2 separate regions of the Homo sapiens genome follow, and region 1 is linked to region 2. The links come from fine-mapping of genetic effects on gene expression. A gene starts in region 2. The other region holds a variant in brackets. All regions are shown on one strand. Distances are between the middles of the regions. Region 1 holds the start of NOC3L (NOC3 like DNA replication regulator). Region 2 holds the start of TBC1D12 (TBC1 domain family member 12).

What was found. PIP is the estimated chance that this variant, and not a neighbour inherited with it, causes the effect.
Region 1: its variant is fine-mapped to the expression of TBC1D12 in whole blood (INTERVAL, PIP 0.92).

Annotation. Positions count from the first base shown.
Region 1 is chr10:94,362,406-94,370,737 of GRCh38, reverse strand. NOC3L (NOC3 like DNA replication regulator) reads left to right here and starts at 7,799. Exons shown (of 21, transcript NM_022451.11): 1 at 7,799-7,908. The coding sequence starts at 7,900. RefSeq lists a silencer at 7,596-7,725 and an enhancer at 7,866-8,125. The variant G/T (reference allele first, on the strand shown) is at 3,047.
Region 2 is chr10:94,399,079-94,407,410 of GRCh38, reverse strand. TBC1D12 (TBC1 domain family member 12) reads right to left here and starts at 4,870. Exons shown (of 13, transcript NM_015188.2): 1 at 3,827-4,870. The coding sequence starts at 4,797. RefSeq lists enhancers at 3,363-3,662, 4,963-5,122 and silencers at 3,743-4,072, 4,143-4,632.

The DNA.
Region 1 (8,332 bases), 37 kb after region 2:
GTTCTTTCACAGCGAGCTCCTAGCAGAGTCTGGTACAGAGTGGAGGGTGAAAAACTATTGCTGCTCAAAGGACTATCAGAAACTGTGCATGACTTTGTGCATGGCATCCACTTTTCCTTCCCTAGGGATTTTGAAAGACAATGAATAAATAAAGAATGGCTTTGAACAATCAATGTAAGTAAAGAAACAGGAAATGTCATTTCTTAGCTTAATTTATCAACAAACATCTTAAATAAAAAAGAACATGTATCACAACCCTAGGAAAATCCCTCTAAAATTTTTCCCTGACCATAATATTGCAGATTAGGAAAACAGCTTAAGGCATTTGATCCCTTTTGTTGGAAAACTATTCCCACTAGCAGGACTGGCATCTTGTTATGTTTCCCATCTGGTGTAAACACAAACTTGGCCACACTGTAATATCTAATCCTGTAATTCATTAATTAAATAAAAACAAATTAAACACAGCTAATATTTATATCATAAGATTATTGAGGATTCAATGAAATAATTCATATCTAGGGAAACATAAAAATTACCTAAATAAGTGGTACGCTGGGGTCCTCTGAATTTGATCTTGAGTTGAATCGTGTCCCCCCTCCAAAAAAAAAAAGATATGTTGAAATCCTAATCCTTGGTAACTATGAACATCATCTTATTTGGAAAGGTCTTTGCAGATGTAATAAAGTTAACATGAGGTCATTAGGGTGGGCCCTTAATCCAATATGACTAGTATCCTTATAAGAGGGGAAGACAGACATGTGAAGACAGAGGGACACATGGAGAATAATATGTAAAGATGGGGGCAGAGATTGGATTGATGCATCTACAAGCCAAAGATTGCCAAGGATTGCCAGCTGTCACCAGAATCCAGGACAGAGGCATGGAACAGATTCTTCCTCAGAGCCCTAAACATAAACAAACAATGCCAACATCTTGATTTTAGACACCTTGCCTCCAGAGCTGTGAGATAATACATTTTGGTTGTTTTAACCCACCCAATTTTTGGTTCTTTTTTACGGCAGCCCAAGGAAACAGATACATAAGGACTTGAGTGCAAGTGGTTTATTTTGAAGGTGAGTCCAGGAACCATTTCTAGCAGGGTGGGGTTGTGAGGCAGGGAAGCAAAGGACACTAATAGTGTGTGCTGATGAGTAGGATATCTCTGCAGGTGGAACTCAATCTTTGGGAGACAAAGTGGAAGATGTCTTAGAGCAGGGGTCCCCAACCCTGGGACCACAGACCTGTACCAGTCCGCGGCCTGTTAGGAACTGGGCTGTACAGCAGGAGGTGAGCGGCAGGTGAGTGACATTACTGCCTGAGCTCCGCCTCCTGTCAGATCGGTGGAGGCATTAGATTCTCATAGGAGCTTGAACCCAACTGTGAACTGCACATTTGAGGGATCTAGGTGGGACGCTCCTTATGAGAATCTAACTAATGCCTGATGATCTGAAGTGGAACAGTTTCTTCCTGAAACCATCCCCCACCCTGATCTGTGGAAAAATTATCTTCCTCAAAACCCGTCCCTGATGCCAAAAAGGCTGGGGAGCGCTGCCTTAGAGGTGTTCTACCTCTGAGGATTAAGGACATTGGTATGTTTTTGTTATATTTTATTGGTATATTAGCTTTCTATGGCTGCTGTAACAAATCATCACAAATTTGGTGGCTTAAAACACAGAAATTTATTCTCTCACAGTTCTAGAGGCTGCAAGTCTGAACTTAATATCACTGGACTGAGCTCTAGGGGAGAGTTTGTTCTTTATCTCTTCCCCTTTCTGGTGGCTGCTAGAATTCCTTGACTTGTCTACATCACTCCAATCTCTGCCTATTGTAGTCACATTACCTTCTTGTCTGTCTGTGTGAAATCTCCTGTCTCTTAAATGGATTCATGTGATTGCCCACTTGCATAATCATTTCATCTCAAAATCTTTAACTTAATCACAACTTTGCCTGTATAAGTTAATATTCATGTTTCCAGGGACTTAGCCTTCATATATTTGGAAGTCATGTTTCAGCCTACCACAATTGCTATAGTTATCCTTCAATTACCATTTGTTGTTGATTGAGGATGCTTCCAGTGGAAAAATCTGTGGCACTTCAGACCTGCCCTACAGGGGTCCAGAAAAAGTCCTTAAGTGAAAATTTGCAAGTGCTCAGAGGACTTTTTCAGCATGTATGGAACACGAAGTACTGAGGATATGTAGACGAGACACCAACAACATTTGTGTAGGGCCCCCAGGAGACCTCCCGCACAGCCCCTTGCGGCTTTCTTTCTGTGTCCTGAATAAAAAATTAGAGTGCCTTGACTGCTCTGTGACCTAGCCATCTGCAGGTTCATCCCAGCAGGCTTCAACACAAACTGGGGCTTTGAACAGTCCCAGGCACTGGTAAAAGTATCTAAGTTGTTGCCCAAAACACTGAAAGTACTGGCTCAGGCCCTGAGTCACATACCTTAAACCCTCATATAAACTCCGTACCCTGACCCCCTCACTGTGGACATACCTAGGTCCACACCCCTTTTCTCTCACTGTCCATCATGAGGATTGCCACAGCACTCTGTAGGTAAGTTCTCCTAACAATTGTTTTGGGTTGATCACCCCGGCATTTAATGCTTCTTTCGGCCAGGCACAGTGGCTTACGCCTGTAATCCCAGCACTTTGGGAGGCCGAGGCGGGCGGATCACCTGAGGTTGGGAGTTCGAGACCAGCCTGACCAACATGGAGAAACCTTGTCTCTACTAAAAATACAAAATTAGCCGGGCATGTTGGCACATGCCTGTAATCCCAGCTACTCAGGAGGCTGAGGCAGGAGAAGCACTTGAACCCGGGAGGCGGAGGTTGAGGTGAGCTGAGATCGTGCCATTGCGCTCCAGCCTGGGCCACAAGAGTGAACTCTGTCTCAAAAAAAAAAAAAAAAAAAAATGCTTCTTTCTATGGCATCCCAACTGGGGGCCTTTTCTCAAGACAGTTTGGGACACACCGTTGTGGGAACTTCCCTGTCGCTGCTTTTGTTTGTTTTTGAGATGGAGTCTTGCTCTGTTGCCCAG[G/T]CTGGAGTGCAGTGGTGAGATCATAACTCACTGAAGCCACTAATTCCTGGCCTACCACTGCTTTTGGGGTGATTCAAGCTGTGGGTTCAGCAGGACAAAAAATCTGCTACATCATTATTCTAATGTTTGCTATTATTTTGGTTTTTGGTTAATACTTTTAATTTAATAATTAATTATAATTATTAGCTATCTTAACCTAATTTTCTGATGCACCACAATATAAATTATTTGTACTACCTGAGTGACCTTGCTTAGAACAAATTATACCATCTATTTAAACTTTGTCCTTTCTCCTGTTCTCATTTAGGTATACATTGCTCTATGACTTCCTCTAAAGCAGCTTGTCTTTATTTTTTAGCACCTATGTGATCTTTTCTATTATTCTCTATTTGGTAATTCATAATTATCATTCTCAACTACACACAAACACACACACACACACACACACAATTTCTCAACAATATTTTAACATTTTCAAAGGTAGAGACCATGATATACGTATTTTCAAATCCTTTCTTTTTTTTTTTTTTTGCGATAGCCTCACTCTGTCGCCCAGGCTGGAGTGCAGTGGCACCCTCATAGCTCACTGTAGCCTTGAACACGTGGCCTCAAATAATCCTCCTGCCTCAGCCTCCCAAAGTGCTGGGATTACAGGCAGGAGCCACAATGCCTGGACAGTAATATCTAAATATTACTTAAATATTACAGTTATGTTTTTTTAGCTCTCTGATAGTGAGTTGTTTTTTTTTCCCCTTGGCTGTAGCACTATCTCAAAGGTCTGAACAGAGATTCTAGACTCCTTCCCTCCCCTGGATTTTATTTTACTTTAGTTTAGTTTTGTTTTTGTTTCCCCTGAATTTTAGGAAGGGAAACAGAAAGAGGCCTAGGCAGAGCCAAGCACTTCGACATAAGGGAGGACTGTATATTGTACAATTCCAGGGGCGTCATTCACAGTTTATTTGTAAAGATAGCAAACTTTTTTTTTTTGATCTATGACAGTGAAGTGTCTTAAGGACATGGAAGCTTTTTCTAATTTCCACAGGTCCCCTTTGGGTGAGCTGTAGGGCAACCTGCCTGCCTCTTTTATGTCTAAGATGATTGACAGTGATAACATCCAATTACGATGTTTATTTTCTAATTTGTGATACTGAAGTGTGGGCTTTTTCTATCGCCAAACACTTACTACAAAGTGACAAACATTCATATAGTCCCTTATTATAACTTATGTAAATTATCTTGTGGTACTGGAAAAAAAGAAGCCTTGTTTATTATTCCATGTCCACTTAGTGACAGTTTTCAAAACTGTTTGTTTATAGAAAATGGATTAATTATAATACGGTAAATGGCCAAGAAAGCCCTTGCTTGTTGACAAAGATCTCTGGAGTATTTGGGATTCTAGCTGTGGGTAAAAGAAAGAAATAGGGAATGTTACAAGAGGTACAAGTGAAAAAAAATAGTTCTTTTGAACATGGTAATGTGAAGTCCCATGGTTAGGAGGTAGAGCTGTCCAGGAGGCAGATGGCTATAAGAATGAAGCTTGGGGAAGAAGTATAGGCTGGACAAAATCTCTTTGTAATAGGTAGATGGATGAAATCACGCTGGAAAAGCAAGTAGAGCAAGAAGAGTGGTAGACAAGTGGGCCAAGAGTAGAACCCTGAGAGTCACCTACATTGAAGAAGCCTAAGGAGGAAGAAATGGAGGTAGGAGGAGAACCTGGGGAACAGGCTATTAGGAAAGCCAAGGGAATCAACATTCTAATGTGTGAAGGGAGATACGCGTAGCATCAAAGGCAGCAGAGAGATCTAGTGAGGTTAAATGAGAAAGAAGTAATGTAATTCCGTACACAATTAGAAAAAACTCACAACACTTTGGAGGTTCTTGGTGACCTTAATTAGATCAGTTTCAGCGGAATGTTATGGGCAAAGCCACGTAAGTTCTTAACAGACTTCCTGAAAGTGCTAACAGGAATCTCCAGGTACAATCCCTGTGATACTAGTTTGGGAAAGCCCAGTGACCCTTATCAGCTCAAGTGTCCAGGAAAGCTCTAAGGGATCTAAGAGGATCTGGAGTCCAAATGGGGCTTGGCAGTGGATTGAGTGAAGAAGAGATGACACAAAGGTGGACACACAGAATTAAGAAACCAGCAAGATTAAATGGAATTAAAAGGAATCATATAAACTTCCATTTTTGAGTATTTTCGAACAACAGGCTGCTCGAATTCAAGATGGGAGAGATTTAGCTTGGCAACAATTGCTTTAAAATGATCCAGAGATTTTAGTTGATTGTAAACTTAAAATGGGCCAAGAGTATGACACAGTTCTTAAAAAAGCTAGCACATGCTGGGCATGGTGGCTCATGCCTGTAATCCCAGCACTTTGGGAGGTTGAGGTGGGAGGACTGCTTGAGCCCAGGAGTTTGAGACCAGCCTAGGCAGTATAGCAAGACCAAATCTCTGCAAATAATATAAATTAGCCGGGCATGGTGGTGCGTGCCTGTAGTTTCAGCTACCCAGGAAGCTGAGGTGGAGGATCCCTTGAGCCTGGGAGGTTGAGGCTGCAGTGAGCTGAGAGCTGCCACTGCACTCCAGCCTGGGCAACAGAGAAAAAAAATAAAAAAAGGCAATCTTTATATTAAAAAAGAAAATACTAGCACAGGATTGGGCTATGACAATAGAGAAGAGAAAGTGGAGACGCTAAAAGAATACTTTTTTCTGGAAGTAGGGACAAGTAGGAAAAGAGGCACATAAAAGAGCAATTAAAGGGAGATAAGTTTATTAGAACAAATCTTAAAAATGGAAGAGATTTGAATATGTTTATAAGCTGAGGGGAAGGATCTATTAGAGAGGGAAAGAACACAGGAAAGAAGGGATAATTAATGATACAAGAATCTGATGAAGCTGGGAGGAGTTGGTTTTGAACTGGAATGGGGATGCCTCATCCTTGGAGAGACTGGAAGGAAGGCTAAAAGGATGGGAGTGACTGTAGATATGTTGATATGCTTGGGAGGGAATTCAGGCACTTGGGAAGAGCACAGGCTGATGTTTTCCACTTGTTTGATGAAGTAATACTCCAGCGGGACAGGCTCTGCTGTTTCTGACACTGTGTGGAAGGAGACAGAGCAAGGAAGAAGTTGGAAGGGAGGTTGAAAGAAGAGTGCCAGATGGACCTCTTGGTCTTTGTGGTGGGATCAGGAAATTGGTACTTTTTTCCCTCAGTCTCTCTAAGAGCAACACTATTCAAGGGGCTCAGAACCCTTTGAGCCGCACTACTGGGTTTTCCCACCTGCTCAGGACTGCGAGGCCAGACTCTGTGTCAGGGCCATGCTCAAAAATCATAGACTCAAAAAAACCCACAAAAAACTTGAAGTGGAATGCTTAAATTTATTGAGAAAAAAAAGTCTTTGAGAGACAAGCACTTTGATACTCTTATTCTTGCAATCCATAAAACTTCCTGTAAAAATGAACGACTTTAGGCGGGGCGCGGTGGCTCATGCCTGTTATCCCAGCACTTTGGGAGGCCAAGGTGGGCGAATCACGAGGTCAGGAGATCGAGACCATCCTGGCTAACACGGTGAAACCCCGTCTCTACTAAAAATACAAAAAAAATTAGCTGGGCGTGGTGGCGGGCGCCTGTAGTTCCAGTTACTCGGGAGGCTGAGGCAGGAGAATGGCGTGAACCCAGAAGGCAGAGCTTGCAATGAGCCCAGATTGCGCCACTGCACTCCAGCCTGGGCGCCAGAGCAAGACTCCGTCTCAAAAAACAAAAACAAAAAACGACTTTGGTGAAATTACTAAGCAGACAGAATTTACCCAAAGTTGTAAGATACTGAAATGCAGATACAGTTTTTTATTTTTATTTTTATTTTTTAGACAGTCTTGCTCTGTCACCCAGGCTGGAGTGCAGTGGTGTGATCTCGACTCACTGCAACCTCTGCCTCCTGGGTTCAAGCGATTCTCCTGCCTCAGCCTCCCGAGTAGCTAGGATTACAGGCGCACGCCACCATGTCTGGCTGATTTTTGTATTTTTAGTAGAGACAGGGTTTCACCATGTTGGCCAGGCTGGTCTCGAACTCCTGGAACTCAGGTGATCCACCCGCCTCTGCCTCCCTAAGTGCTGGGATTACAAGCGTGAACCACCGCACCCAGCCATGGATACAGTTCTTTATCAGCTAATGGTTAAAAATTAAAGCAAAAAAAAAATGCAAAATAAAACACTAAGAATCACAGACTTTTAAGTGACCAAGGCTGATGAGAAATCATTCGCCATGCTACAAACACGGCCAGAATGTCCGTCGAGGGGCAGGCATTACACACAAAAAATAAGCTTCTTTCTGCCCTCAGGACTGTATGGAGGAAAAAGACTACGAAAATCAGTATCTATAACAGCATGAGATAAGCAACGTGAGGAGAGGCACAAAATGCAATGAGGTGACCGAAAAAACCAAGTCCTCTCATTCTGAGAGGAGGAGCCCGATTTCCCCAAGGTTTTAAAAGAAATAAATAGGGCGAGAGTCAAAGAATCATACTCAGATAACCTTGCAAAATGCGCCCCTCCCGCCCGGCTTCCCGCCTTTGGCACCGACGCCCTCGGGGCTTCCCTCGTGCCAGTCCGCGCGCGCACGCCGGGGGGCAACCGGTCCAGGGCCGCGAGACAGTCACCGCGAGAGGGCGCGAGCCCGAACCTGTCTACGGAAGTCCCGCCCTCACTTCCGGCGGCGGAGGATTGGGAGGGACTGAAGGCCGTTTCCGGCTCTGGTAGTGTAGGGACTTCGGCACGTGTGTCATTCCCCGGGATTTCTGTAGTAACCCTGCTTCTGGTGAACTTGTCTGGCCGGCATTCATTTAAGGCCTAAGGATGAAGGCGGTAAGTGTCCTCAAAAGCCCGGTCGCCGCGGCCTAGGGCCCCTTCGGGTGATAGAGTCACTGCCTGAGTTAGCTTTTAGGCAGGTTTTCACCCGTGTCTAGGGGGCGGTGGTTTAGACTGGGGGCTTTCCATTCCTTACACCGAGCTCATCCTTGGTTACCCACTGTGTGCGCGCACCACTTCAGAGTATCACGAAGAGACAGGCACGGAGTTTTGCATGCGTGGGATTTCATACTTTGAAGGAATTTTTCAAGACCGTCTTTCGAACTCGTTTTTCACAAATGAGAAGCAGGGTCCTACCCTCAGCGAGTTTATAATGTGAGTCACGGTACCCATGAAGGGTAAAGAGATAGAAAAGCAAGTGATTTGTCCTGGTTCTCCCAGAAAATAAGAGGTAGTCCTGGGGTTCAGGACTAACTTTGGG
Region 2 (8,332 bases):
TGCGCCCAGCTGCATTTCAATTTTTATAGACAGGAAAGGGTCAAGGATCTGAGGGAATGTTACTTTTAGGGCTCTGACAGCCAAGTCACCATAAACACAGAAAGGTGTCCATGTGAAGCTGAAGCAAGCCCCCAGTAGGGACTGAAATAGAACTCACCTCATGTGGAAGGGAAGGAAAGTGGGAGATGACCACTAAGGCCCTCCAAATGAAAGCAGTCATATTCTAAATGAATTCCTGTTTTTCCTATATATCTACCAAAATGATGTGTCTTAACATAATACTATGTAGTAATAGATACATTGTGTAAAATGCTCCCCCCTCTTTACTTAAGTAAACATAAAACTGTTTTTTTTTTAAGGTTTCTCGTATAGATTTTTGCCTAATTAAGGGAAAGAGAAGAACGAAGTGGGAAGGGAAGAAGAAGGAAAGCATGGAGGATAAATAGGTGGGAGAGAAAAGAGCCATAAAGTGAACAAAGGTTGTAGACTGAACATAAACATGGATTGGGAAATCAGGAATCCTGGTTTCAAATCCCAGCATGCCACTAGCTAACTAAATTACCTTCTTTAGACAATGAGATTCCTCATCTAAAAAAATGAAGTGGGAGTAAGGGTTGCACCCAAGAACAAGATTCCATCCCAAACAAGCCACTTCCAAAGAGAGCCCTCACCTGGAGCTTCAGAGTTGAGAATAGCAACTATGCATTTAGGGGTAGGGTTGGATCTCTTGGGTTGTGTTGTGAGACAGGGGTAATTTCTGATTATTTTCACTGAGGATGGAGATTCTGCTCAAAATTACACTACCTAGCTAGAGCACAGTAAAAGGGAATCCATGAAAGCTACCTATTCAACCCAATCTGAATGGTGTTCTTCATACCAGTGGCTAGGTATTATAGATTCAGAGATGAATGTCACAGTTCCTGCCTTTAAGGTGTTCAGAATTCATTTAAGAAAAACTGTGCCTCTCTGACTCTGCCCTTTCTTTCCCAAGAATGTCATATAAAGGAAGCACTGACTCCTAGAGTCTTGACATTCAGACCTCTATCAGGAAAAATGAGGCTTAGAGAAATTAACTTTAGGGCACCTGTTTTCTGACTTCAAATCCAGTGCTCTGACACATATGAATAATGTGGCCATATGAATGTCATCTAGCTATATTAAGTTCTATTAGTCTATAAGTAAAAAAAATTTACAAATTAAATCAAAATTCCTGCCTACTTAAAACACATGGGAAATGAAAGAAAAAATAAAATTCCTGCCTACTGTTAATAATATGAAAGCCTCCTATAAATAACATTGTTGGCTGGGGCAGTGGTTCACACCTGTAATCCCAGCACTTTGAGAGGCTGAGGCGGGTGGATCACCTGAGGTCAGGAGTTCAAGACCAGCCTGGCCAACATGGTGAAACCTGGTCTCTACCAAAAATACAAAAATTAGCCAGGCGTGGTGGCGGGTGCCTGTAATCCCAGCTACTTGGGAGGCTGAGGCAGGAGAATCACTTGAACCCAGGGGGGCAGAGGTTGCAGTGAGCCAAGATGGCACCACTTCACTCCAGCCTGGGCAAAAGAGGGAAACTCCATCTCAAAAAAAAAAAAAAATGTTCAGAAATTGCAATGTATATATATGCATCTGTCTTCAAACTTAATCCCCATTAGCCTGCACCCCACCTGCAGGTAAGGGACAGTTTTCTAAATCATCTCTATTCACAATGCATGGCAGAGAGCAAGAACTCAAGAGTATACTAGTTGAATTTGTTATCTCCAAAGCCCCTCCCAGATCTAAAATTGCCTGACATCTGACCTCAAAACATGACCAAGATAGATATGACCAACAAACACCCAAAGGCCACACAGTGTCACAAATTTATAAACCTAACTCACCTTGAGATCTTTTAGAATACTGCCAGTACAAGCTTTAAATATATTTTTGCAACTATATTACAAATACAGATGTCATTACTACATATATTGTCCTGAGTAACAAAAAATTAGGATTTTCCACTTTTGATTTAAGAAACTTTATATTTGTAAATTTATACAAGCAAAAAAATAAGGATAAACTAGAAAGAGGAATAAGAAATATCAATTATAATCAGAAAATTGTGCCTTTATGTCTACAATATGTACGCTAATTGTATAACCTGCTAAAACTTGAGCTAAGAATTTGCTTCTTTCACTTCTGGTTATAGTCAAGATCCCCGAAAAGGTAGAAAAACAAAGTAGGGAGAACTCTGTAAAGGAAAGTTTTACAAGTTGGGAATATTTTCCTATTTGCCTGGGGACTTAAGAAAAAAGAAGAAGAAGAAGAAGAAAAAGGCGTGTCAAAATCTAACTCAAGGAAAACTGCCTTTTTTTTTTTTTTTTTGAGAGAAGTCTAGCTCTTATTCCCCAGGTTTCAGTGCAATGGCTCGATCTCAGCTCACAGCAACCTCCGCCTTCTGGGTTCAAACGATTCTCTTGCCTCTGCCTCCCAAGTAGCTGGGATTAAGTCGCCTGCCAACATGCCCGGCTAATTTTTGTATATTTTAGTAGAGACGGGGTTTCACCATGTTGGCCAGGCTGGTCTCGAACTCTGACCTCAGGTGATCCACCCACCTCGGCCTCCCAAAGTGCTGGGATTACAGGACTGCTCTTACAGTAAGGTGTATTAAGTATTTTCTGACTACTCTTATTTATCCCTATTAAATCAACAAACCTCCATCCTGAAATCTGCGAAGTCCAGCACCATAATTTAATTTCTTTCTTTTCTTTTTTTTTTTTTTTGAAAGACGGAGTTTCGCTCTTGTCCCCCAGGCTGGAGTGCAATGGCACGATCTAGGTTCACTGCAACCTCTACCTCCCAGGTTCAAGTGATTCTCCTGCCTCAGCATCCCGAGTAGCTGGGATTACAAGCACCTGCCACCACGCCTGGCTAATTTTTGTATTTTTAGTAGAAACCGGGTTTCACCACATTGGCCAGGCTGGTCTCGAACCCCTGACCTCAAATAGTCCGCCCGCCTCAGCCTCCCAAAGTGCTGGAATTACAGGCGTGAGCCACCGCGCCCGGCCCATAATTTAATTTCAAGAATATCCTGTCAAATCACAAATACAATACCATTTTTTAAAAAAACTAAAGTTATTGGGGAAAAAAAGGAGAGGCTTATCTGGGAGATTAGAAAAAAGGCTTTCCTTAGTAAAAGCCCTACTTTGGCTTAAAAAGTTGGGATAAAATTCTAAACACCAAACTGCATTTTAATAAAGACCACTGAAACAAACGATTAAACACTATGAAGCACAACCACTTCTAATTTCAAGAATTCCCAAACCACTTGAATGGATTTAGACGCTATGCAAGCACAGCAAATAAACAGCTCTACAAAATGACTTCCTTCTCTCTTTCACAACCACACCCGTACACACATACCGCCTCCCCTCACCACCCCCCCAACAACCTAAATGTTTGTAGTAAAATTTTTAAAAATTGGAGACGGAGATGGTTATCTGCTTTTCCAGAAAAGGCAACTGCATATGTGGCACTAGACAGCTGGCCCAACCTGACTGCTCAGAAGCCAGGTATGAATGGCAGGTACAGCCTCCCGCGGACAAGGCAACAGAAAGACTCGCTGTCCACAGAGCTCACAACTTCTCCTATAGAAACACAAAGCCGACCCAGTTCCTCTTCCTCCAGTGACAAATCAAAGCTAAGTCCTGACGCGTGTGGGGCTGGCACGGAAGCGGCCGACCAAGCTCTCCGCTCCGGCTCCGGCTCCGGCTCCGACTCCCACCAAGACCCCGGCTCCGGCCCCGGCCCCGGACCCGCCCCGAGTCCCATGCAGCCTGCGCTGTACCTGGTGAAGAAGTCCGCGAAGCCGCCACTCCGTCGAGCCCGGGCCGAAGCCCCCGCAGGACCCTGCTCCGCGGCGGGCAAGGGCACCGGCGGCCCCGCCGGGGGCAGGTGATCGCGGGCGCTCTGACCGCGGCTCACCTGGAACGTGTTGCGAGAGTTGAAGTGAATGTCAGAAAAGCCCAGGCGCGGCTCCGCACCCCCATTAGTCCTCTCGGCCGAGGTGGCAGGGGGCGCGCCCTCCTCGGGACCCCCGGCGCCGACTCCCCGCTGCTCTGAGTCCTCGCTACTGCTGCAGCTGCTGGCGGGGCTGTCCCCCGAGTCGCTGCCCGCGCCCTCGGGCTCCTGGGCGTCCGCGGCCACCAGGCAGCAGCTCCGCAGCGGGTCCTCAAGCGGAGAGGCCCAATCGGACGGGCTTCCCGCGCCGTCCGCGTCCTCGTCGCCAGGCCCCTCCAGGCGAAGGCGGCCGTAGGGGCGGCGGCGGCGCGACTCCCGGCCGCCGGCGCGCGCCAGCCCGCGAGCCTCTTCCAGATCGCGACAGTCCCGGCCCGGCAGAAAACCCGAGTCGCCGTTGGTCATGCCTTCGTGCCGCGGCGCGCGGCCATCAGCCACCTCCGCGCCGCGGTGTTTGGAGCCCGAGCCCAGCAGGCAGGCGTCCGATCGTGGGGCTGCCGAGGGCGGCGGGGCGCCGGCCTGGCCAGCGGGGAGCGGACAGTAGCAGAGCCCCGGCTCCAGCTGCTCCCCGGCCGCCGCGAGGTAACGCTGAAGGAGCTGCCGAGGCGGCGTCTCCTCCTCCTCGTCAGCCTCCTCCTCCTCGTCAGCCTCCTCCGGCGGCTCCACAGCGCCGACGCCTCCGCCAAAGCCGCCCGTGGCCCGGATTACCTTCCTGTCCTGGCCCACGGGGTCCGGCGCAGGCACCGGGAGCAACTTGGGGTTTCTTCCCGAGCAGGCTCCGGCATCCTCCGGACCCACCATCTGGGGGTGGGTGGCGGCCGCCCCAGGAGGCAAAGAAGGACTACAGGCGCAGGCTTGGCCAGAGAACAGCTCTGGGTGCTGGGGCCGCGGCGACAGCCGCCGCAACGTTCCCAGACCCACCCCTCCCACCCGCTGGGTCGGACAGTTGCTTGAGGGCGGGCACGCGCCAGGACTCGCGCACGCGCAAAAGTCGGACCGGTCAAGCCCCGACCTGGAGATTCCCCGAACCATAGAGACGGTAGCTAGAGAGACGCAGGCTGCCAATCTAGGATCCGCCATCTGGATGGTGGAAGCTGGTTGGCCCGCTCTAAGCGTGACAGTTCTTACCGAAGCGCGGGTATTGCTCGCTTAGCAAAAATTCACTTGATGTATTTCATTTATGGTAGTAAAATACTCCCATATTTGGGAGGTGTTAGCGTGGGTAAGTCCTTCCAGCTCTAATTGGTCACCAGTCGACTTTACGATTTTTACATCCTTCTCCGGCATCATTGCCACAGTTCAGGGCTTCATCACTTCATCCAGGAGGGTCAACACCCTCCCTTCTTCACTTCATCTAACACAAAAGAAAGATATCCTAAGTTATCTTGCTCACCTAGCACCATGTTTCATCACAGTCCTCTGTTTAAAAGATTATCACCGGCCGGGCGCGGTGGCTCACGCCTGTAATCCCAGCACTTTGGGAGGCCGAGGCGGGTGGATCACAAGGTCAGGAGATGGAGACCATCCTGGCTAACACGGTGAAACCCTGTCTCTACTAAAAATACAAAAAAATTAGCTGGGCATGGTGGCGGGCGCTTGTAGTCCCAGCTACTCGGGAGGCTGAGGCAGGAGAATGGCGTGAACCCGGGAGGCGGAGCTTGCAGTGAACCGAGATCGCGCCACTGCACTCCAGCCTGGGCGACAGAGCGAGACTCCGTCTCAAACAAGAAAAAAAGATTATCACCTAAGGAGGGAGAGGAAGTGGTCAGGCAGAGAGGAGCTATTGAAATAATTCCAGCACTCTGCGATAGTGGATTAAAATGGGATGATTGACCATTGAGTGGAAATGAAGTATATTTAAAGTAAAAGACGAAAGACTTGATAACTGATCAGAAGTGACAGAAGAGAGAGTAACCAATGATTACTACAAAGATATGAGACTGAAACTGATATGGTTTGAAGAAATAGAAAAGTGGATAGGAAAAAAACGATTAATAGGGGAAATACATCTGGTAAAGTAAACGACTGAAAATATCCAGCATATAGAGTTCTAAAACTTGAGTTGGCTGGGCGCAGTGGCTCACGCCTATAATCCCAACACGTTGGGAGGCCGAGGCAGGTGGATCACCTGAGGTCAGGAGTTCGAGACCAGCCTGGCCAACATGGTGAAACCCAGTCCCTACTAAAAATACGAAAAATTAGCTGGGCATGGTGGTGGGCACCTGTAATCCCAGCTACTTGGGAGGCTGAGGCAGGAGAATCGCTTGAACCCGAGAGGCTGAAGTTGCAATGAGCCCAGATCGTACCACTGCACTCCAGCCTGGGCAACAAGAGGGAAACTGTTTCAAATAAATAAATAATAAAACTTGGGTTAGGGTTTAGGTTCAGAGACACAGATTAGGCGTCATCTGTATAATGCAAGTAGGTGGATGAATCATGAGTAACATTACCTAGGAAGAAAGAATAATGATAAGGGTCGGGCACAGACCCAAATGTTTCATTATTTCAGGACAAAAAAGTTGTATTGCAAGAAATTGAAGAGGCATCAGTTGTGGATAAAACGAAGCAGAAAATATAGACCACTCATTCTATAAAAGTATATAGAATATAGACCACTCATTCATTCTAAAAGTATGTTAGTGAATGCAAGAACAGAAAATAGAAGTCGTAGAGGAGACATTATTGTCAAGCATTTAAAATTTATTTCATATAAAAATACCTATACATACAGATATAAGAGGGAATATAACCTTTATATAATAAAATGTCAATAAAATGGGCATGCATGTACCTAACACTCAATTTAAAAAAACATCAAGAGGCCAGGCGTGGTGGCTCACATCTGTAATCCCAGCACTTTGGGAGCCAGAGGCAGGCAGATCACTTGAGGTCAGGAGTTCAAGACCAGCCTGGCCAATATAGTGAAATCCCATCTCTACTAAAAATAAAAGCATAAAATAAAATAAAATTAGCCGGGCGTGGTGGTGGGCGCCTGTAATCCCAGCTACTCAGGAGGCTGAGGCAGGAGAATCGCTTGAACCCAGGAGGCGAAGTTTGCAGTGAGCCAGGATCGCACCACTGCACTCCAGCCTGGGCGACAGAGGGAGACTCTGTCTCAACAAAATAAAAACATCAAGTGTCTTCGAAAATAAGCGTTATTGAAGGCCCTAGGAAAGGACTAAGTGGCAAAGGCATAGTCAGCAATGCATTTATTATCAAGGTATTTCAGAAGGAAAAAATGACTTTCAGGACACGAGTGGAAAAAATATAAAAAGAGAGAAAATATTTGCAAATTGTATATCTGGTAAGAGTGCAGTATCCAGAATAAATAAAGAACTTGTATAAATCAACAACTGAAAAACAACCCAACTAAAAAAATGGGCAAGGGACTTGAATATACATTTCTCCTAAGAAACATATGTTAATGGAATATTAATAAGCATATGAAGTGATGCTCAACATCATTAGTCATTAAGGAAATGCAAATCAAAACTACAATGAGATAGCACTTCACACTCACCAGGATGTCTATAATCAAAAAAATAGAAAACAAATGTTGAAAAGAATGTGGAAAAACTAGAACCTTCATACATTTCTGGTAGAAATGTAAAATGGTGCAGCTTCCATGAAAAACAGTTTGGTAGTTCCTCAATAAGTTAAACATGGAATTACTTATAAGCCAGCAATTTTACTCCTAGGTGTATACCCAAAAGAATTGAAAACAGGTGTTCAAACAAAAATGTTTTACGTGGGTTGGGCACAGTGGCTCATGCCTGTAATCCCAGCACTTTGGAAGGCCGAGGCAGGTGGATCACCTGAGATCAGGAGTTCAACACCATCGTGGCCAACATGGTGAAACCCGATCTCTACTAAAAAAATACAAAGGCCGGGCGTAGTGTCTCACGCCTGTAATCCCAGCACTTTGGGAGGCCGAGGAGGGTGGATCACGAGGTCAGGAGATCGAGACCATCCTGGCTAACACGGTGAAACCCCATCTCTACTAAAAATACAAAAAATTAGCCGGGTGTCGTGGCGGGCACCTGTAGTCCCAGCTACTCAGGAGGCTGAGGCAGGAGAATGGCGTGAACTGGGGAGGCAGAGCTTGCAGTGAGCCGAGATCGCACTACTGCACTCCAGCCTGGGTGACAGAGCAAGACTCCGTCTCGAGGAAAAAAAAAAAATAGCCTGGCTCAGTGGTGCCCGTGCCTTTAATCCCAGCTACTTGGGAGGCTGAGGCAGGGAGAATCGCTTGAACCTGGGAGGTGGAGCTTGCAGTGAGCTGAGATCACACCACTGCACGCCAGCCTGGGCGACAGAGCAAGACTGCGTCTCAAAA